4 linked regions of the Homo sapiens genome follow. The main gene of each other region encodes a partner of the protein of the gene in region 3 in a complex. Links are inferred from orthologs where the notes say so. Each region holds a gene or a part of one and is shown on either strand. Other genes may lie near its edges. The genes, in order: GINS1, MCM3, GINS3 and GINS2. A codon is read from its position in the direction of its gene.

Region 1 (7,058 bases), on a different chromosome or scaffold from region 3:
CCCCTACAGTCCCAGCTACTCGGGAGGCTGAGGCATGGGAATCACTTGAACCCTGGAGGCGGAGGATGAAGTGAGCTGAGATTGTGACACTGCACTACAGCCTGGGTAACAGAGTGAGATCCTGTCTCAAAAAAAAAAAAAGAAAAAAGAAAAAAGGAAAAAGAAAAAGAAAAAGAAAAAAGAAACAAAAACAAAAACGAAAGAAGACAAATTTCAAGCCAACCACCTAACTTTACATCTTAAGGAACCAGAAAAAGAAAAGCAAGCTAAACCTAAAGCTAGAAGGAGGAAATAATGATTAGAGCAGACATTAATAAAATGAAGAACAGAAACACTCATAGAGAAAACCAATAAAACTAAAATTTGGTTATTTTAAAAGGTCAACAAAATTTACAAACCTTTAGCTAGACAGACTAAGAATAAAAGAAGGCTCAAATTACTAAAATCAAAAATGAAAGTGAGGACATTACTACCAATCCTACAGAAATAAAAAGAGTTCTAAGAGTCCTATGAACAATTGTACACCAACAAATTGGAAAACCTAGATGAAATGGACAAATTCCCAGAAACACAAACCTACAAAGACTGAATGATTAAGAACTAGTAAATTGGAATAGACCTATAGCTAGTAAGGGGACTCAATCACTAATCAAAAATCTCTCAATAAAGAAAACCCTAGAGCTGATGGCTTCACTGGGTAACTCTATCAAACATTTCAAGAACACCAATCCTTCTCAAACTTTTCTAAAAAATATAAAAGGAGGGAACACCTCCCTAACTCATTTTATGAGGCCAGCATTACCCTAATACCAAAGCCAGAAAAGATACTCCAAGAAAACTATAGACCAATGTCCCTTATGAACACTGATGCAAAAATTCTCAACACAGGCCAGGCATGGTGGCTCACGCCTGTAATCCCAGCACTTTGGGAGGCCAAGGCGGGAGGATCACCTGAGGTCGGGAGTTCGAGACCAGCCTGACCAACATGGAGAAACCCCATCTCTACTAAAAACACAAAATTAGCCGGGTGTGGTGGCACATGCCTGTAATCGCAGCTACTTGGGAGGCTGAGGCAGGAGAATCGCTTGAACCCAGGAGGCAGAGGTTGCGGTGAGTCAAGATCGTGCCATTGCACTCCAGCCTGGGCAACCAGACCAAAACTCCGTCTTGAAAAATAAAAATTAAAAAAATTATCACCACAATAGTATCAAATCAAATTCAGCAGCATAGTAAAAGAGTTCATCATAAATCAATTGAGATTTATTTTTGGAATGCAAGGACAGTTCAAGATATGAAAATCAATCAATATAAGTCATTAACAGAACGAAGGGAAAAAAACATGATCATTTCAATTGATACAGAAAAAGCGTTTGACAAAATTCAACTTCCTTTCATAAAAATACTCAACAAACTAGGAACAGAAGATAACTATACATCAACATAATAAAAGCCATATATGGAAACTCTACAGCAAACATCATATTCAATGGTGAAAGACTGAAAGCTGGCCAGGCACGGTGGCTCACGCCTATAATCCCAGCACTTTGGGAGGCCAAGGCGGGTGGATGATGAGGTCAGGAGTTCAAAACCAGCCTGGCCTCTATGGTAAAACCCTGTCTCTAATAAAAATACAAAAATTAGCTGGGCGTGATGGCATGTGCCTGTAGTCCTAGCTACTTAGGAGGCTGTGGCAGGAGAATCGCTTGAACCTAGGAGGCGGACGTTGAAGTGAGCTGAGATTGTGCCACTGCACTCCAACCTGGGCAACAGAGCAAGACTCTGTCTCAAAAAGAAAAAGAAAGACTGAAAGCTTTTCCTCTAAGTTCACTAAGAAGGCAAAAGATTTCTGCTTTTGCCACTTCTATTCAACATAAAACTGGAGTTACAGTCAGAGTAATTAGACAAGAAAAAGAAATAGGATTCTAAATTAAAAAGGAAAAACTAAAATTATCTGTTTGCAGATGATATGATCTTACATGTAGAAAATTTTAATGATTCCACAAAAAACTTTTAGAACTAATAAATGAATTCAGCACAGTAACAGGATGCAAAGTCAACACACAAAAATCAGTTGCATTTCTATACACTAACAACGAACAATCTGAAAATAAAAATTATGAAAATAATTCAGTTTATCAGTGCGAAAAGAATAAAATATATAGAAATTAAATTAACGAAAGAGGAGAAAGATTTGAACAATGAAAACTAAAAAACACTGCTGAAGAAAATTAAAGATGACATCAACAATTGGAAACACATCCCATGTTCATGGATTGGAAGATTTAATATTAAGATGTCAATGCACCCTAAGTGACCTACACAATCCCTACTATAATCCCAAAAGTGTCTTTTGGAGAAACAGAAAAACCCATCCCACAATCCATATAAAATCTCAAATAGTGAAAACAACCTTTAAAAAGAGGAATGGGGCCGGGCGTGGTGGCTCATGCCTGTAATCCGGCACTCTGGGAGGCTGAGGTGGGCGGATCACCTGAGGTCAGGAGTTCGAGACCAGCCTAGCCAACATGGTGAAACCCCATCTCTACTAAAACTATAAAAAATTAGCCGGGCATGGTGGTAGGCGCCTTTAGTCTCAGCTACTTGGGAGGCTGAGAAAGGAGAATCACTTGAACCCAGGAGGTGGAGGTTGCAGTGAGCCAAGAGTGCACCACTGTACTCCAGCCTGGGCGACAGAGCAAGACTTCGTTTCAAAAAAAAAAAAAAAAAAAAAAAAAAAAAAAAAAAAAGAGAGAGGAATGAAGGTGGAGGACCCAAAATCCCTAATTTAAACTTACTGCAAAGCTACAACAATCGAAATACTACAGTTCTGGCATAAAGACAGATGTATATATATATTAAAAAAACTTTTTTTACGACAGATGTACAGAACAATGGAATAGGATAAAGAGATAAAAAATAAACCCTTGCCTACATAGTCAAATGATTTTTGACAAGAGTGTCAAAACCATTCACAATGGGGAAAGGGCAGTCTTATTAAGAAATTATGCTTGGAGGCCGGGTGCGGTGGCTCACACCTGTAATCCCAGCACTTTGGGAGGCCGAGGTGGGCGGATCACAAGGTTAGGAGATCCAGACCATCCTGGCTAACACGGTGAAACCCCGTCTCTACTAAAAAATACAAAAAATTAGCTGGGCGTCGTGGTGGGCACCTGTGGTCCCAGCTACTCGGGAGGCTGAGGCAGGAGAATGGCGTGAACCCAGGAGGCAGAGCTTGCAGTGAGCCGAGATTGTGCCACTGCACTCCAGCCTGGGCGACAGACAGAGACTCTGTCTCAAAAAAAAAAAAAAAAAAAAAAAAGAAATTATGCTTGGAAAGCTAGATTTCCACATGCAAAAAAATAAAGTTGGACCATCACCTAACACCATACAAAAATTAACTTGAAATGGATCAAAGACCGAAATGCAAATGTAAAACAACATAATACTTAGAAGGAAATACAGGTCAAAAGTTTTATGACATTGTATTTAGCAATGATTTCTGGGATATGACTCCTAAGGCACAACCAACAAAACAAAAAAAATTGGCCGGGTGCGATGGCTCACGCCTGTAATCCCTGCACTTTGGGAGGCCAAGGTGGGTGGATCACCTGAAGTCAGGATTTCAAGACCAGCCTGGCCAACATGATGAAACCCTATCTCTGCTAACAATACAAAAAATTAGCTGGGTGTGGTGGTGCATGCCTGTAATCCCAGCTACTCAGGAGGCTGAGGCAGGAGAATCGCTTGAACCCAGGAAGCAGGGGTTGCAGTGAGCCGAGATCACACCACTGCATTCTAGCCTGGGCAACAAGAGCAAAATTCCATCTCAAAAAAAAAAAAAAAAAAATGACGAACTGGGCTGCATGAAAATTTTAAAATATCAACATGATACTGAAGGAAGAAAACAGAAAAAAAAGAAAAAAAAAGACACTATCAACAGCATAAAAAGGCAACCCAGAGAATGGGAGAAAATATTTGCAAATCATATATCTGATAACAAATTAACATACTGAATACATAAAGGATTTCTAAATCTCCACAACAACAAAACCCTATTTGAAAATGGGCCCCATAAAGGGGGCCAATTATTTGAATAAACATTTCTCCAAAGAAGACACAGGAATAGCTAATAAGCATATGAAAAGATGCTCAACATCACTAATCATTAGGGAAATAAAAGTCAAAACCACGTTTTACATCCTTTAGGATGGCTATGATTAAAAAACAGAACAAGGCCAGGCATGGTGACTCATGCCTTTGGGAGGCTGAGGCGGGAGGATCACCTGAGGTCAGGAGTTCAAGACCAGCCTGGCCAAAATGGTGAAACCGTGTCTCTACTAAAAATACAAAAATTAGCCAGGTGTGGTGGTGGGCACCTGTAATCCCAGCTACTTGGGAGGCTGAGGCAGGAGAATCACTTGAACCTGGGAGGTGGAGGTTGCAGTTGAGGTGAACCTGGGAGGTGGAGGTTGCAGGTTGAGCCGAGATCGCGCCACTGCATCCAGCCTGGGTGACAAGAGCAAAACTCTGTCTCAAAAACGAAACAAAATAACCCCAAAATATTTAGTGTTGGTGAGGATGTGGAGAAAATGGAACCCTTGCGTAATGTTGGAATGTAAAATGGTATGGCTGCTGTGGAAAGCAGTATGACAATTCCTCAAACATAGTATTACCATATGATCTAGTAATTCCACTCTGGATATATGCCCCCCAAAATTAAAAGCAGAGTCTCAAAGAGATTTATATATCCACGTTCATAGCAGCATTGATCATAAAATGATAGCTAAAATAAAGAAGCAACCCAGTGTCCATAGATGGATAAATGGATAAGCAAAATGTGGTATAGCCAGAAAAAGGAATATTACTCATCCTTAAAAAGGAAGGAAATTCTGGGCCAGGCGCAGTGGCTCACACCTGTAATCGCAGCACTTTGGGAGGCCGAGGAGGGAGGATCACCTGAGCTCGGGAGTTCGAGACCAGCCTGACCAACATGGAGAAACCCAGTCTCTACTAAAGATACAAAATTAGCCAGGGGTGGTGGCACATGCCTGTAATCCCAGCTGTTTGGGAGGCTGAGGCCAGAGAATCACTTGAACCCAGGAGGCGGAGGTTGCGGTGAGCCAAGATCGCACCACTAGACTCCAGCCTGGGCAACAAGAGTGAAACTCCATCTCAAAAAAAAGAAAAAAAAAATTGTGCAATGGTGCAATCTCAGCTCACCGCAACCTCCTTCTCCCCGGTTCTAGCGATTATCCTGCCTCAGCCTCCCAAGTAGCTGGGATTACAGGCATGTGCCCGGCTAATTTTGTATTTTTAGTAGAGACGGGGTTTCTCCATGTTGGTCAGGCTAGTCTTGAACTCCCGACCTCAGGTGATCCTCCTTCCTCAGCCTCCCAAAGCGCTAGGATTACAAGCATGAGCCACCGTGCCCAGCCGGAAATTCTGACACAAATTCTTACCACAGATACCACAGAAATGAACCCTGAAGATATTACGCTAAGTGAAATAAGCCAGTCACAAAAAGACAAATAACTTGTCATTTGTAGCTTCTCAGAAATTATTCTCTAACGAGAACAAAAGAAAACAAAAAGACAAATACTATATGATTCCACTCACATGAGGTAGTTACAGTAGTCAAAATCAGAGACAGACAGTAGAATGGTGGTTGCTGGGGGATGGGAGGCAGGGGTATTGAGAAGTTATTGTTTAATGGGTAGAGTTTCAGTTTTATAAGATGAAAAAAATCTGGATATGGAATGGTGGTGACAGCTGCAAAACAATATGAAAGTTGCAAAACAATATGGAATGTTAAACAATATTTAATACCACTTAAATGTACATTTAAAAATAGCTAAGATGGTAGATTTTATATGTATTTTATTATTTAAAAAATAGAAAAAATAAACAAAATGAAACAAAAATACCTCTTGTTTTGACTAATCCACCAACTTGAAAGACATTTGCTTTTTTTACTTTCAAAATTTAGCATTGATTTTCCATTTTGATTTAACTTTGTTTTGACATTTGTTTCATTTTACTTTCAAAATTTAGGGACTGATTTTCCATTTTGATTTAACTTTGTTTTGACATTTGTTTCATTTTACTTTCAAAATTTAGGGACTGATTTTCCATTTTGATTTAACTTTGTTTTAGTAATAGCTAAAACATTTATAGGGTTCCATACTCAAAACTATTAAAACAGGTATATTCAGAAAATTATAGCTGTTCCATCGTATTCTGTCATCCCCCTACAGGTAGCTTGTTTGATTTGGTCTATGCTTCTTTTCTATTTTAATAGAAGCTAACACATATTCATATACTCCTCTCTTCTTAAAAGGTAGCACAATTTACACATTAAAGAAAAATGCATTTTAAAAAGATATACATACTTCAATATATAGGCTTTTTGGTGGTTTCATATCCTGTGTAATGTCCAAACCTTCATCTCCTCCCAGTGACCTCATATAAGTAGCAAGAGATCTTTTATAATTATTAAACCACTCCATCTGCAAACATAGAGATGATCATTTGACAAAATTCTAAGAAAACTTGCACACACTGAATATCATCCATTCGAAAACAGTACACATCCCAACACAAATCACTGTTGTGACCATTCATTCATTAATGCTAAAATATTAATTGCCTCCTATGATATAGGCATTGGTCTGGGTACTTACAATGAATCATTCAATAAAGTGAACAAAAATCTCTGTTCTCAGAGAGCTTACATTTCAGCATACTTAATAATAAACCTTAGGAATCTTTGACCAGAAACAGAACCATGAAAAAGACGCCATTTCAGAATTATATCTTCAAACTCTGCATTGATGCTATTTCTGAAAACTATAAAACATTGTTAAGAAAACCCAAATGTCCACCAGCTGATGAATGGATATGTGCCCATATGATGGAACATTATTTAACCATAAGTAACAATGAAGTTCTGAAACGTATTGCCATTACCACATGAAAGACAGAAGGCCACATATTGCATGATTCTACTCATATGAAAAACCTGTAATAGGTAAATCTATAGAGACAGAAAGTAGATTCGG
Region 2 (7,070 bases), on a different chromosome or scaffold from region 3:
GTAATCCCAGCTACTCGGGAGGCTGAGGCAGGAGAATTGCTTGAACCCGAGAGGTAGAGGTGGCAGTGAGCCGAGATTGCACACTGCACTCCAGTCTGGGCGACAGAGCGAGACTTCGTCAAAAAAAAAAAAAAAAGAATGGGGGCTGGGCATGGTGGCTCACGCCAAGGTGGTAGGATCACTTGAGGCCAGGAGTTTAAGACCATTCTGGGCAGCATAGTGAACCTATCTCTCAGAAAGAAAAAGAATGGGGATGACTTCTTACGGACTAAGAAATCAGATTACTGAAATTAACCTTGGCAAATACCAATGAATCACTAATTGTTGGCAAGCCAACTGTGTTGTTATATTTAATGGGAAAATCATGATCACTGATGTTCTCTGTCTGGCTCCTGGATTTTCCGGCTCTTTTTAGCATATCTAACCGGAAGGACTCCAGGAAGCAACAGAAGAGTGCAAAAGGGAGACAAGAAAGGTGATCAGACTCGTTTATTTATTTATTTTTTGAGACAGAGTTTCACTTTTGTCACCCAGGCTGGAGTGCAATGGCGTGATCTTGGCTTATTGCAACCTCCGCCTCCTGGGTTCAAGCGATTATCCTGCCTCAGTCTTCCAAGTAGCTGGGATTATAGGTGCCGGCCACCATGCCTAGCTAATTTTTTTGTATTTTTGGTAGAGACGGGGTTTCACTATGTTGGCCAGGCTGGTCTTGAACTCCTGACCTCAGGTGATCCACTTGCCTCGGCCTCACAAATTGCTAGGATTACTGGTGTGAGCCACTGTGCCGGCTGACCAGACTCTTTTAAAAGAGTTTTATAAAGGAGTCCATTTAGTATTCCATAATGTTCTTTGAGCATGGAGTAAATGCATCTGATGGCTTCCAACACTGTCGGAATCCGAGCCAAACAACACCCTGCCTATGTTATTTTTTTTAGCCAATTGGACTTCCAGCAGAAAAAGGTCCCACTCAAGGAAGTGTCTGGGTTGGTTGTATTGTAAGTTTTTTGGTGGAAGTGGGAAGGGGGTTTGAATTTGGTTGTCTGAATTGTTTCAGAATGCACTACAGTGCTTCCTCCCCTTCTCCTATCCCTTGACTCCTCTCCAACTACCATTCACCACCACTACCAATGGTTAACATTTATTTAATGCTTACTACATACCAGGCACTTTTTTCAGTAGTTTACATCTGTTATGACTTCACTGGATACTTAAACATTTGAGTTAGATACTACTAACCTAATTTGAAAGGTGAAGAAACTGAGGCACAGAGTGGTTAAGTAAGTTGCCTAGTCGTGCAGGTAATATACAGAGCAGCCAGAAAGAGTAACCAAATCTGCCTGTCTTGGTGCTTGAAACTCTAGATGCTACAGCATCTGAAGATTCTGACTTCACACTGCAGAACTGTGAGGTTAGGGCAAGCCTGTGCCTACAGATTATTCCTTGAGCTGCTGTGACACCTGGAGGCATAGATTTGCTCACCTCCAAGCTTTGGTGGCCTTTGAGTAAATGTCAAAGGACTGCTAATGAATTATGGCACTTTCCTGAGTGCCTAAACAAGTTATTAATTACAGGGTATTATTTGAAATGTTTTGCAACATATAATGTTCATTAGTTTGAACAAAGGTATATATAATTTCTTGTAATAATATTTATTATGGATTTGTATTGTGTCTTTGGGTATTTTTTGGACCCTGAGGACATAGAAAAATGGCAGTATTACATCTATTTTGCAATCTCTTTGCAATCTTGTTTTCTTTCCATTCTCTTCCTGTATACTCTGCTCTCCAGGGAGCCCCCTAGCGTTTAGGCAGCCTTGGAGATGGGCTTGAGTCCATTAAAGTCTAGGGTGGAAAGAAAATTGAAATGGAGGAAAGCAGGAATGTGACCCAAGTATGGAAACTGTAGATACACTACTTTATTAGATTATATGTGCTTTTTAATTTTGAATCAGGATAGAGGAGGACTACGGGCTAAGCTCAGCTGGACTTTTTATGAGATATGTACAAATGCCCCTAATTTTTCTGTAGCAACAACCTGATTGATTTTGGGCAGTTTGCAGGTGTCGGGGATAACAAAGGAAATACATTTCCTCTGCTTAAAGATTTCATGCCCTAATGAAAGAAGGGAGAAACACCAATTAAATAGCGGTGTGTCCTTCACAGCTGAAGATGATTATATTGGGACAAATCAAGTCTTTATCAAAGACCATGGCATGATTAATTCATTAAATAGAATTGTCTTTACATAGTTTCCAAATTTGCCATTAGCTCATGGAATGTTAGAGTAAGACAGATTATCAGAGATATTCTAATTCAGTTTCTTCATCTTATACTGTATATAAGGAAACAAGCCCAGAAAAAAGTGTGAGAATCAAAGATGTGGTTTTCAGATTTCCACTCTTTTGGACTTTCTACTACAAATGACTCGACTTCTTTGCTAGTTTGAACTAAGCTTCCCGGTTCTTTTAGTGTTAATTTCAAATTGTTTCCAGAGCAGAGGATATCTCAGTACTCTGTCCAATAAGTTCATAAAATAAGAGTTATGAGTAAAAAGTCTTAATAAATCAGTAATTACCTCTTGCTATATAACGGCAAACAGTATCTTTATTCTAGAATTTTCTTTTTTTTTTGCCCGTTAATAAACATAAAAGCAAGCAGTCAAATGACAGCCTTTTTGCTTTGGCTAAGGATCGATTTATCTGCCCACTAGGATGGCACAAAACATACAGTAACTATAAACTGAATAATAACTAGAAATACATATACCCACACAAATAGATGGCCTATATATTTTGTTTAGGCAGATTATTCTTAGAATATTTATCAGTACATAGTGAGTCCTGAAGACTTTAAAACATAAGCTAATAGTTGGCTGAAATTTCAGATAAAGAATTATCAAATGTCTGATGTTGGGCAATCCAGTATTTCAGCTTCTTGTTCAGTAAAATTAAAAACACATGCTGGGGCAATGGGCTTGCTCTTTATTGTGCAGAGTGGTTACATGGGTGTAAGCACAGGTAAAAATTCACTGAGCTGTACACTTAAGATTTGTGCATTTTACTGTATATACATTATATCTCAAAATAAAACTAGAAATATAAGAAAAAGCCAACCACGACGGACTGAAAACAAACATACAAATTTGGACGTGCGATGATCTTTTAGTCATTATGGTTTCAGATTTGCTGTTAGTTACTGATTGATATTTAATCAAAGTGACGTGAAACACTTTTTCCCCTCTTGAGCTGATCGTTCAGTAAGCTAAGTTACTTAAAAGGATCTTGTGATCTTTTTATAAGACCAGAAAGCCTTTAATTTACCTGTTATTAAGTAAGATGGAGTAGTAACGGTTTCCAAAATTTGTATAACACACGATGAAGTCTCTAGGGGGCAGGGTAAACACAGATTTTTTTTTTCACTTCATCCTTCTCTGCGGCGATGTCTTTATGGAGTTCGTCAGGCAACGGTATCAGATAGCAAATGGGTTTTTAACTAATCTTTCCCTAAGGTACTGTAGTTCTATATTCTATCCTATAGATTCTCAAAATCCACTTTTACACTAGGATGCCACTGGAGGGCAGTTCTGATTTGGATATATCTTAAAAATGATTTGCTTTTATGTTTTCATCTCCCTGCGTTATAAAGCACCATCCTCTGAATTTGGTCGTTGCATCGGGTCAAAAGTTCTGCAGCTTGAAAAACCCTGCAAAAACATCCGGAAAGGAGGGAGAACACTACAACTCCCAGAACGCAATGCTTTCCCTCTCGCCAGCCTGTCCCCTCCAGCTGCTCAATGACCAGCCTCTGTGAGCCTCCTCTCAGCCCTATTGGTCAGTTTGCTCGTCAGTGAGTGAGGCGGAGGGAGGGGAGGAACAGAGAATCCCGGATGGTACGTTTCCCGCCACCGCGGGGCGCGCAGCGGAAAACCCGAAGAAGAAGAAGCTTTTGATTGGACAGTCGCTAGTCCGACCTCAGAGAACTCAGCCAATCATAATGCTTATATGCTCCCAAGGTCCCCGCCTCTTCCTCGAGGTAACCTTTGGTGGCGGGAAGAGTTCGGAAGTTTTCGCGCCGGGGTGGAGTCATCCTGGGAACCTCCACGCGACTTTGGTGGAGGTAGTTCTTTGGCAGCGGGCATGGCGGGTACCGTGGTGCTGGACGATGTGGAGCTGCGGGAGGCTCAGAGAGATTACCTGGACTTCCTGGACGACGAGGTGAGGGAGGCGCCGGCGCGCGGGCTCTAGCGCTCGGAGCCCCTGCGGACGCGGCCCGGCCGGGAAGCCAGAGGCCCGCCAGACCTCCAGACCGTGTGCCGCAGCGGAGCCTGCCGGGCCCGAGCCTCCAGCCCCAATCTTGTAACTTCTCAACGCCGGACTCGCTAGTTTGTGTTCGATAAGTGAACTCTTAGGAAGCCAGCTTTCTCTTAAGTACAAGCGATGGTCCGGGCGCGCAAAAGGCGACAGGTTCCCATTAAGTGCAAGCAGATTGGCAAAGCCCACCTCGGCCTTTTGCATTTCACTGCTCTCTCTTGATTTGAGGAGACTGTGGGGGAGGGGCTGCCCTAGGGCTATAGTGACCAGCCGCGTTGCAGAGTGCTCAGATTTTAGGGACTGACGTTTTACCTGGAGGAAAAGACTCCATAATTCGGCTGCATTCTTTTTCAATACCAACTAAGATGCAGATAAAAAGTGTTTTGTGTGCAGGCCAAGGGGATTTTATGTGCAACCCAAGACTTAAAGCCATAGAATGTTGAAAAAACCATCTTGAAGGGTTGATGATGTGACCAAATAGCTGAGATTCTCTATTCCTTTAGGTCGGGGTATGAGAACCCTTTCCGTATTATAGAGATGATTGGAAAAAATATTACTTTTTACATAATTCTTAAATGAAAAGCCATTTTAATGTGACTATTAAGAGTCTGTTTTATTTACATTTTTATTGTATATATTTGAAGTGCACATGTTTTGATATACATGGTGAAATGATTACTACAGTGAAACAACATATCCATCTATTCACGTTGTTACCTTTAACATTCACATTGCTAGGTTTAACTTAACATTTTAACAAAGTTTGCACTTACTGTCCATTTAGACTTCTCATGAGCTCATTTTAATTCTCCACTAAAGACAGAAATTACAGCATGCAGAAAAGTTGTCCATGATGATGGGAATAACAGCATGGACCTTGAGGAAGTCATTATAATTCTTATAGTCCCCTCTTAGGGTGTTATTTCGAATCTAAAAACAGTGAATGAAAGGGAGAAATTGATGAGCACATACTTACTGGGGATTCAGCTCTGCTGCAGAGATTGACTTAGCTATCTGGCTATGAGAACTACTTCTGTTTAGAAACATTGTTTTTAAATTTGTGGCTATGGTGATATGTGGTGGCTGTTTTGCAGGAAGACCAGGGAATTTATCAGAGCAAAGTTCGGGAGCTGATCAGTGACAACCAATACCGGCTGATTGTCAATGTGAATGACCTGCGCAGGAAAAACGAGAAGAGGGCTAACCGGTGAGAGGCAAGGGGATATACTGGCTGTCAGTGAGAATGGCTCCCTTCCCTCTTGGCCAGATTGGAACAGCCTCTCAGGAGAGGACTTGTATGAAACAGGATTGATCTACAAGCCCTCGTAGCTCACCTGCACCTATTTTTTTTTTTTTTTTTTTCAAAAAGTGGGTGGTTGGCATTTTCCTCCCAAATGCCCCTCCTTCCAATGTTTAGCTGAATATCATTTTTATATCTTTGATAAGTTGAGGTGAAGTTGGTCCTTAGTTCTGGTATTTTACTGAGTCTTATAGGATGGTGTTTTACTGAGACTTATAGGAGAAAGCAGAAGCTGGATTTTCTCATTGTTTTTAATGATCTAAGAATGTCTGCTGTTTTGAGGATCCATTTTTTTGAGTTCTGCCCAGTCTAATTTTTCTTTCTCTTGCTTATGTACAGGCTTCTGAACAATGCCTTTGAGGAGCTGGTTGCCTTCCAGCGGGCCTTAAAGGATTTTGTGGCCTCCATTGATGCTACCTATGCCAAGCAGTATGAGGAGTTCTACGTAGGACTGGAAGGCAGCTTTGGCTCCAAGCACGTCTCCCCGCGGACTCTTACCTCCTGCTTCCTCAGCTGTGTGGTCTGTGTGGAGGGCATTGTCACTAAATGTAAGTGGGTTAAAGGGGGCCGCTTAGGAAATGAATAGACAGGGAGATGGGGAAAGCAGGAGAGGCAAAGTAGATCTGGGTAGCTTGTGGCTTCAAAGAGGTGGAGCATTGGAATTACGTGGTAAAACTTGGAGGGCTCAGTGTGTACAATGATTGGGGGACCTTGAGTAATCACATGTATTAGTAGAATGATGAATTCTGCTGAGAGCTGGAGGAGTCTTGGTTCCTGGCAATCTCTAATTCCAACCTCTAACTCCACCTATTTATTAGTTGGGATTGGTGGTACTTAAAATTTTACATGGATATGGTGGTGGTCTATATATAAATAAAAAAGTGAATAAAAGGTAATATTGAAATATCGTAACCTAGTCAAAAAAACACAGTATTTGGAGTCATTATAGGCTTGCATATGTTTGGGTTCCACCTGTATCATCGTCTAGTTGGGTGAGTTTATATATGCACATTTTCCATCCCTAGGTTCTCTAGTTCGTCCCAAAGTCGTCCGCAGTGTCCACTACTGTCCTGCTACTAAGAAGACCATAGAGCGACGTTATTCTGATCTCACCACCCTGGTGGCCTTTCCCTCCAGCTCTGTCTATCCTACCAAGGTAAGGGGGATAAATCAGTTGAGCTGTCTTGGAGGTTGGAATCAAAGATACCTGTTTTAAGGCAAGGAATTGTGTAATATCTGAAGTCTTTTTTCTGTAAAGGGTGAAAAATAAGGATTAATCCAAAGGAAAGATTGATTGCAGGCCAGAGTTTAATATGAAAAGCCCACAATTCTTATTTATTTATTTATTTATTTTTAAAGATGAGGTTCTCCTATGTTGCCTAAGTTGGAGTGCAGTGGGTATTTGCAGGTGCAGTCATGGTGCACTAAATTTGCAAACTCCGGGGCTCAAGTGATCCTCCC
Region 3 (4,235 bases):
CTGCTTCCACACCCACAAAGCTGCTCCCATCTTTTTGCAACAGTTCTCCCTTGTGAGAGTTTTGGCTCTTACTGCTTCATTCAATCCAGTTGTTTGCCTTTGATTTTTTTGGAGATTTATGACTCTTAATTTCTGGTCTGTCATGACCACCTCATCTTGTTTTCTAATTCTATTGAGGCTTTAAAAACTAGAGACATGTGTGCTGTCATCTCTGAAGCTGTGAAGTGGGATGGAAAGGGGCTGCCACTCAAGCTCAGGTTGATCTTATTTTTCTTTCTGACCCCTAGCATCCAATAGGGTGCTCAGTACATAGCAGGCACTCGGCAAGTGGATATTTAGAATAAATATTGAATATTCAAAGAAAAAGGAAATGTTTACTATAGCTCTGAAGTGTCTACAATTGGACAATTTTTATGTGTTAGTTAGAAAACTCTCACTTATGCTACATTTTTGTTCACCATGTTTTTGTTGTATAAATCCATTTTCTCTCTCCATTCCATCATCACATAAAACTTCAGCCCACACACTTCATTGCTTCGAGTCACGACCAGGTCTTCTGTGCTTGACAGCCACTCCCCCAAAGAGAAAAGGCAGTATTGCGCAGGCGATGTGTATTTCCTTTTCGTCACACACATTTGCTGTGTTACTTGTCTGTTTTTAAAATCTACATTCATGCATGCTGCAGGGTTCCAAGCTTGAACTACCCTTGTGGCTGGCAAAAGGACTTTTTGACAACAAGCGACGGATCCTTTCTGTGGAACTCCCCAAGATCTACCAAGAGGGTTGGAGGACTGTGTTCAGTGCAGATCCCAATGTGGTGGACCTCCACAAAATGGGGCCCCATTTCTACGGGTTTGGCTCCCAGCTCCTGCATTTTGACAGTCCCGAGAATGCAGACATTTCCCAGTCTCTGCTGCAGGCAAGTAATGGGTGTGAAAACCTGTGGTGCTGCACTTGTCTCAAGAGCCAGCCACAGATACTACTTTTACCCAGGACAGTGTATGACTTGTAAATTTAGTCTGTTTTTATTCCAGGTCAGCCTACAGTTACACTGTCTGTCCATTTTATATATTTACATATATACACACACACACACACACACACACACATTTTTTTAATATGACTTGTCTGCCACTCCTCATATTTGCTTGCTACAAGTTGAGGCCAGCAGGAACTCTAGGAAATGAGAAAAGGGTGATGATGGCCAGGCATGGTGGCTCACACCTGTAATCCCAGCACTTTGGGAGGCCAAGGCAGGAGGATCGCTGAGCCCAGGAGTTCAAGACCAACCTGGGCAACATAGTGAGATCCCATCTCTATTAAAAAGAAAAAAGAGAAAAAAAGGGCTATGGTGCATTACAGGTGACAGGCACTTAGATACACAGTCCCAGGCCTGGCCTAAGGGTTCCTGTTGGAAATACAAGAGTTATTGGGTTGTTTCCTTCCTTTGTTCTGGGGTTAGGGCTTGGCCCTGCCATGAACTAGCAATATGACTTGGTCAAGCTACTTGACCTCTCTAGACATCAATTCACCTGTAAGAATTGATGGAGATGATAATAGTGCCAAAATTATAGAGTTGTGGTAAAACTATGTAATGCCGTGTAATAAACAATAACTCATATTGTTATTACTTTTCCAGGACAAAACAATGTTATACATCTGTTCCCAACCTTTATGGTATAACCTTATTTTAATTTTTCATAATTACTTTTTTATTCTGTTACTGTTAGAAGAAACCATCATTTCTTCCTCTTGGGACAGAAGCATTTGCTACTAATGACAATAATAGGTGATGCTTCTCAAGGAGCTTGCTGTGTGCTAGCCATTTGCTAGGTGCATTACATGTATTCATTGGTTTTCTTAACAACTTACTGGATTTTCATAACAATCCACTTCACAGATGAGGAAATTGAGGCATGGCAATGTGCAATAACTTACTTGGGTGCTAGAGGGAATTCAGACCTCCTTCTGAGTCCTACACATCATTCTTTCTTTTCATGCCATTTAAATGTTCTGAGATAAAAATGGATATGACTTTGTGGGGTGTGAGGTCAACCCTGACTTGTCTTACTCCCTTGTTTCCCAGACTTTTATCGGACGTTTTCGCCGCATCATGGACTCCTCACAGAATGCTTACAACGAAGACACTTCAGCCCTGGTAGCCAGGCTAGACGAGATGGAGAGGGGCTTATTTCAAACAGGGCAGAAAGGACTGAATGACTTTCAGTGTTGGGAGAAGGGGCAGGCTTCTCAGATCACAGCTTCCAACCTCGTTCAGAATTACAAGAAGAGAAAATTCACTGATATGGAAGACTGAAAGCCGGAAGAACACAGAATGGCTCCTCACAGACGTATCCCTCCGTGTGTCCTTGATAGGAGCTGGTTGACCTTGTACAGAACCAGAATCCTGTCCCATTTCATGGCTTATTTCCTGTGGCCATAGAGAATTATAGGGAACTGGACATGCTGGAGGATGTGGGTGTCCCTGGCTCTGTGAGTCTTCCAGGACCGTCCCACCCTGCTGACCCACAGCCCAGGCCCTTTAACCCAAGAACCCATGGCCAAGGAGAAATCAAAGTCCTTCCTAAATAAGAATCACTGCCATATAATATATCACAGTAGAGTTGCAACTGAGATTCCTTGTGTCTGGGAGTTTGGACAGCTTCAGATGTACAGTTTCACTAGCCACAAAGCACAGGTACAAACTGGGTCATCGCCTGTTCACAAAATGCTCTCTTGATCTTATTTGCCTCATCTTCCTCATGGTTGTACAGAGGATAGCACCCCACCATGCCAGCCTGACTTGGAGATATCTCCTGCTGCCTGCCTGCAGGGAGTTACCCCAGTTTCCAAAAACAGTCGCCCAGATAAAGGAGGAAAAGGGAAAGGCAGACGAATGGCATGGCTTTTACTAAAGAAAAGATGTTGGCCTCATACTCTATACTCAGGGCTTAATGAACTGGAATCTGCATAACTCAGCAGTCAACCCAGAAGGGAAATGGTTAAACTGAGCTTGTTATTGCCTCGGAGAGCCTAAGAGCACCCGCACACTTAATTCTACTCCCTGTCTAGAAAAGCTGTCAGGGAGTCGTTTGGAATTGCAATGTAGTTATTAAGGGCTGTTAACCAGCCTGCATTACATCTGGAAGTCAGGACTTGGGTGCTGACTATGAAGGGCCCTGTTTTCAAAATCTAACATTGCAAGTGTAAATGGGCAAGAAGCCTCCGTTGTGCTTTTTTTTTCCTCTTCAGTAACTTTTGCAACATTATTGCATAGAAGATCCCTGACCATTTACTAGGAACCTGGTTAAGCAAGCACTAATCTCTTTTCCTGGAGATCAAGGATGCAACCTCAGGTTGAGAAAGAAACAGGGTTCCCTGGGCCCATTAGACTGTTTGCAGGGCATCACTGCTTCCCCCTGACACCTCACAACTAGCAAAAATTGTCTTTGTCTTTGGAAATTATAGAGGGATTTGGGTATCCAGATTGTGCAGATGCAAACTTAGGCTGTCTTGATGCAAACTTAGAACCACAGAAATGCTTTTAAAATGCCTGTTTTAAGATGGAATTGTTGTTTTTATAATTTGATTTTAGTGCTAAATAAATGATTGGCTTTGTACATGAATATGTTCTGTACAAGTGCTCTTTCACTAGTACTACAGATAATCAAAGCTATCAGAATTGTGTCTTTGATCATATTTGACGGTAATACACAAATCCATGTTTTAGCAGCTGCTCTTTTGCTTGTGTGGTACACATAAATAGGAGGTACATTCTCTGTAGGAGGGTGCTGTGTCCTAGGAAGATGAGATTTCCATTACTACCGCAGCATTTATATATAGCCAGGGCCCGAGAAACCATTCATAGAGCGAGAAAAGCATATTATTTAACTTTTGGCATCATTCTTTTCACACATAGCTTTATATTTAAAGTCAACTCTAAGTCTGCTGCCATTTTTTCCTACTTCCTAAAAAAAAGAAATTCCTCAGGGGCCATGTGTCAGGAATATGTAGGTATTCATGTCCAAAACTTAGCCCCTATTTTACATTTTGAACAGATTATATTACATGTAGCTTTTGAACTCATTTTCAATTACAGATCTGCCTTCAAGCCTGTCGGACTTCCCCTCTCCCCAGCAGCCCTCCAGTTAGTCGTTTAGATTTTGATTTGGTCCCTTCAAGAGGTTAATTTTTCAAAAAACACAACAAATGGGCTCAAATACCAAATTGCTATC
Region 4 (3,257 bases), about 27 Mb from region 3:
GGCTTCTGACTTAGAGCTGATTCTCTACTAATTTTCTTAGGTAAACAGCAGTCCTGTTCAGCAGCCTGCCATGGGATAGTTAATGTGAGCAAAAGAAACTCCATGTGGATCACTGCCGCACCAAGCTTAACTGCTACAAATCTTTACACCCTAAAGTTGAAAATAAAGCAAAACAGACTTTCTGAGTCTGGAATAGCCACGGTATTTTGCCTGAAAAGAGCCACTCTATCCAGCATTGCCTCAGGTTATCAAGTGTTCCCCGACTGACTTTAGCCCTTGCTCCTTTAGTGCTTCAGACAACATCCCGAAGGCAGACGAAATCCGGACCCTGGTCAAGGATATGTGGGACACTCGTATAGCCAAACTCCGAGTGTCTGCTGACAGCTTTGTGAGACAGCAGGAGGCACATGCCAAGGTAGGTGCCGCCTTGCCTGGGTGCTGGTGGCCTTGATGCCGCATAATTTCACATGGCTCCCGTCTGCTGAGGCTATTACAGGCAGGCATTACTAGCTGTGCTTTTCAACAGTTCATTGGTTTCTTATTTTTATTCAGTAGAGTTTACCTTTTTCTCAAAATCAAAAACTCCTTGGCCAACTTGGTCTGTTTTCTTGCTTTAGCTGGATAACTTGACCTTGATGGAGATCAACACCAGCGGGACTTTCCTCACACAAGCGCTCAACCACATGTACAAACTCCGCACGAACCTCCAGCCTCTGGAGAGTACTCAGTCTCAGGACTTCTAGAGAAAGGCCTGGTGCAGGCGGCTTGCTGGGGGATGTGAGCGCTCAGGACGTGATGAGGTACTCGTGGTTCTGGAGCTCTAGAAACACTTCTGATGCATGAAAAATGTGTGATGGTGCAAGGAATGGATTCAGGATGTTGTTGGAGAAACAAGTTTGTGATTAGTCCTTAAAACTTAGCTCCCTGGGACATTCTTCAATTCCACATCTGTTTCTAGAAACCAGCCCTTTTTCCCCCCACTTTTGAGAAATAAAAAAGCCTTAGGTAAATAAGTCATTCTCCCTAGCAGAGCCACTTGGGTCTCCTGCATGGAAGCCATCACACTTGGGCAGGTGTTCAGTGACTGGTAGGTGTAGATACAGCAGGAGTGGCCATGTGGTCCACGGCTTTTTACCCCTTCTTGATCCTGATTTCTTGGGCTGAATTTAGACTCTCTCACAGAGGTGGCTCACAGAGAAGGATGGCAGATGGTGCAGCCAACAATGCTGACCGGTGCTTATCCTCTAAGCCCTGATCCACAATAAAAATGGACCCAACTCAGCTCTGACTCTCTAGGTTTTTGTGCTGCGTAACTACCAAGTAAAAGGACTGAGCCTGTGGCTGAGATGACTCAGTCAACGAAACTGAGGCACACGGCAGTTAAGTGGAAACTGCAGACCAACACCTGGGGTGTCTCCTTCTCTTGGCTACTTCTAGCTCAGGTTTAATGGGTTGCTTATCAAGAGGAGAGTCAGGAAAAAAACGAATCCAATGTATTGAGCATGAGTGACAATGTATTGAGCATGAGTGACAATGCTAGAAGAAAAGTCACTTTCAGTGCTGCTCTTGATGGATTTGGGGAAGGATTCTTTGTTGTAGGTAACAGTGGGCTCAGGGGAAATTATTTTTTTCCTAAGAGAAAATTACTTTATTCGTAGCATTTTGGAAATGTTAGGACCTTTACAGAAATTACATTACCTTGAGAGGTGAAATGATCGTCCAGCATCATGCAATGGATAGAAGGTTCTGTAATCAGCTTTAAAAAAAACTTTAATTTTTGGCCGGGCACATTGGCTTGGCTCATGCATGTAATCCCAGCACTTTGGGAGGCCAAGGCAGGTGGATCACAAGGCCAGGAGATTGAGACTATCCTGGCTAACATGGTGAAACCCCGTCTCTATTAAAAATACAAAAAAAAAAAAATTTGCCAGGTGTGGTGGCACACGCCTATAGTCGCAGCTACTCGGGAGGCTGAGGCAGGAGAATCGCTTGAACCCGAGAGGCGGAGGTTGTAGTGAGCCAAGATTGCACCACTGTACTCCTGCCTGGGCAACGAGAGCAAGACTCTGTCTCAAACAAAAAAAATTTTAACTTTTTTTTTAGACAGGGTCTCGTTCTGTCATCCAGGCTGCAGTAGAGTGGCGTGATTATAGCTCACTGCAGCCTCGAACTCCTGGGTTCACACAGTTCTCCCACCACAGCCTCCCAAAGCACTGGGATTGCAAGCATGAGCCGCCATGCCTGGCCAGCCTATTTTTGGCTGGACACCAGTGGGCCAAAAGCAGTGGGGTGCTGTCTGGGGAGCTCTGAGAATGCGCATGTGTGACAGGCTGAGCCTAAAGACTTATCACCCAGCATCTGCCCTCCAGTGTCTAGCATGCTGCACACTATCACTCCATGTTGCTGCCCACGTGTCCCCGCCAGGCAGGTTTTGGTGGTTATTTGGACACTGAAGGGTCAGACCTGGAAGACTGGGACCAAAAGATGAGGTCTCCATAATTTAAGGTGCTGTTCAGACTTGGTTCAGCTCATAGGACTTGTTCTTTCATCTCAGCCTTCCTTGGAATCCTCCTGCTTTCATCTGGGGATCTTTTAGAATGAAACCACTTGTTATTGTGGAGGGCAAGGGGTCCTAATGCCCTCCTCTTAGAGCCTGAGCCAGTGGAGGCAGCTCCGTCTGCGGAGATGTATAGTTATTGAGCTTTTCTTTGTTTGGCTTTGTTTTATATCATAAAAAAGATTTTCCTCTTAACATAATTTAGGAAGATTTTATTTTTTGGATGTTGTCAGAAATTACAGCAATATATTCATAAATACCTAATTACTACATTCAACAAATAATATTACAATACAATTAATTCAAACAAGTACACTTAGAACAGGTTTAATTTCACAGCATCTAAACTGCCCCCAGAGTGACCGAGGCACCGGTGTTCCTCCCTCCCACCTGCGTATGGGGTTTACTGTTATAGAATTAAGCACAGGGTACATACAAAATAACACCAGTTAGCATGGTCTTCCTCAGGTCAAGGCAGAGTTAAGGAGTTTTTTAGGTTAAGCACTGGATGGAAAAGTTGGGGACAGGCTACTGCAAGTAGTAAGAAAGTCAACAGCTTGGTTACTTGAAAGAATATAGAGATTGCTAAGTGGCTAATATACACTTTAAAGAGGAACAGAATCGGTTTGTGCTGACCATCTCCATCTTGTGGTGGATCCCTGGCATTTTCTACACTTGTGTGAAACATGTGGCTCAGGGA

Evidence for each region.
Region 1: the proteins of GINS3 (region 3) and GINS1 are in contact, whole or in part, in a cryo-EM structure (PDB 8Q6O), measured with the Xenopus laevis proteins. The link is inferred for Homo sapiens from one-to-one orthologs. Residues at the interface, in NP_001080618.1 of Xenopus laevis: Trp2, Pro4, Tyr5, Met6, Pro7, Val8, Glu16, Asn17, Phe18, Leu19, Ser20, Leu21, Glu22, Asp23, Leu24, Leu25, Ser27, Gln28, Ser37, Phe39, Pro40, Arg41, Leu42, Phe44, Leu45, Pro63, Trp65, Leu66, Gly69, Leu70; in NP_001085502.1 of Xenopus laevis: Met1, Phe2, Cys3, Glu4, Ile7, Ile10, Arg11, Leu13, Gln14, Ser17, Asp18, Gly19, Gln20, Leu21, Glu49, Arg55, Asp57, Leu58, Pro60, Thr61, Lys63, Phe64, Arg65, Cys67, Cys68, Arg71, Arg74, Cys75, Val77, Ala78.
Region 2: GINS3 (region 3) and MCM3 share a complex: the UniProt entries of both Homo sapiens proteins name them as parts of the CMG helicase complex.
Region 4: the proteins of GINS3 (region 3) and GINS2 are in contact, whole or in part, in a crystal structure (PDB 2E9X), measured with the Homo sapiens proteins. Residues at the interface, in NP_073607.2 of Homo sapiens: Leu13, Gly14, Tyr117 (codon at 848), Ser121 (codon at 860), Leu124 (codon at 869), Asn131 (codon at 890), Ala132 (codon at 893), Ser135 (codon at 902), Gln136 (codon at 905), Leu138 (codon at 911), Leu139 (codon at 914), Gln140 (codon at 917), Phe142 (codon at 2,090), Ile143 (codon at 2,093), Phe146 (codon at 2,102), Arg147 (codon at 2,105), Ile149 (codon at 2,111), Met150 (codon at 2,114), Asp151 (codon at 2,117), Ser153 (codon at 2,123), Gln154 (codon at 2,126), Ala156 (codon at 2,132), Met171 (codon at 2,177), Gly174 (codon at 2,186), Leu175 (codon at 2,189), Thr178 (codon at 2,198), Gly179 (codon at 2,201), Gly182 (codon at 2,210), Leu183 (codon at 2,213), Asp185 (codon at 2,219); in NP_057179.1 of Homo sapiens: Asp2, Ala3, Ala4, Glu7, Met93, Glu94, Lys97, Asn101, Trp121 (codon at 344), Ile125 (codon at 356), Arg129 (codon at 368), Val130 (codon at 371), Ala132 (codon at 377), Asp133 (codon at 380), Val136 (codon at 389), Arg137 (codon at 392), Gln139 (codon at 398), Met151 (codon at 636), Thr155 (codon at 648), Ser156 (codon at 651), Thr158 (codon at 657), Phe159 (codon at 660), Leu160 (codon at 663), Gln162 (codon at 669), Ala163 (codon at 672), His166 (codon at 681), Met167 (codon at 684), Lys169 (codon at 690), Leu170 (codon at 693), Arg171 (codon at 696).

What each region holds. Positions count from the first base shown.
Region 1 is NC_000020.11:25,424,659-25,431,716, reverse strand, and holds part of GINS1 (DNA replication complex GINS protein PSF1), read right to left. Parts: intron 6,507-7,058; coding exon 6,390-6,506; intron 1-6,389. UniProt on the Homo sapiens protein: Required for correct functioning of the GINS complex, a complex that plays an essential role in the initiation of DNA replication, and progression of DNA replication forks.
Region 2 is NC_000006.12:52,281,740-52,288,809, reverse strand, and holds the start of MCM3 (DNA replication licensing factor MCM3), read left to right. Parts: upstream 1-4,067; 5' UTR 4,068-4,135; coding exon 4,136-4,213; intron 4,214-5,403; coding exon 5,404-5,516; intron 5,517-5,948; coding exon 5,949-6,157; intron 6,158-6,634; coding exon 6,635-6,765; intron 6,766-7,070. UniProt on the Homo sapiens protein: Acts as a component of the MCM2-7 complex (MCM complex) which is the replicative helicase essential for 'once per cell cycle' DNA replication initiation and elongation in eukaryotic cells.
Region 3 is NC_000016.10:58,402,413-58,406,647, forward strand, and holds the end of GINS3 (DNA replication complex GINS protein PSF3), read left to right. Parts: intron 1-685; coding exon 686-919; intron 920-2,086; coding exon 2,087-2,317; 3' UTR 2,318-3,735; downstream 3,736-4,235. UniProt on the Homo sapiens protein: Required for correct functioning of the GINS complex, a complex that plays an essential role in the initiation of DNA replication, and progression of DNA replication forks.
Region 4 is NC_000016.10:85,675,698-85,678,954, reverse strand, and holds the end of GINS2 (DNA replication complex GINS protein PSF2), read left to right. Parts: intron 1-288; coding exon 289-415; intron 416-617; coding exon 618-743; 3' UTR 744-2,757; downstream 2,758-3,257. UniProt on the Homo sapiens protein: Required for correct functioning of the GINS complex, a complex that plays an essential role in the initiation of DNA replication, and progression of DNA replication forks.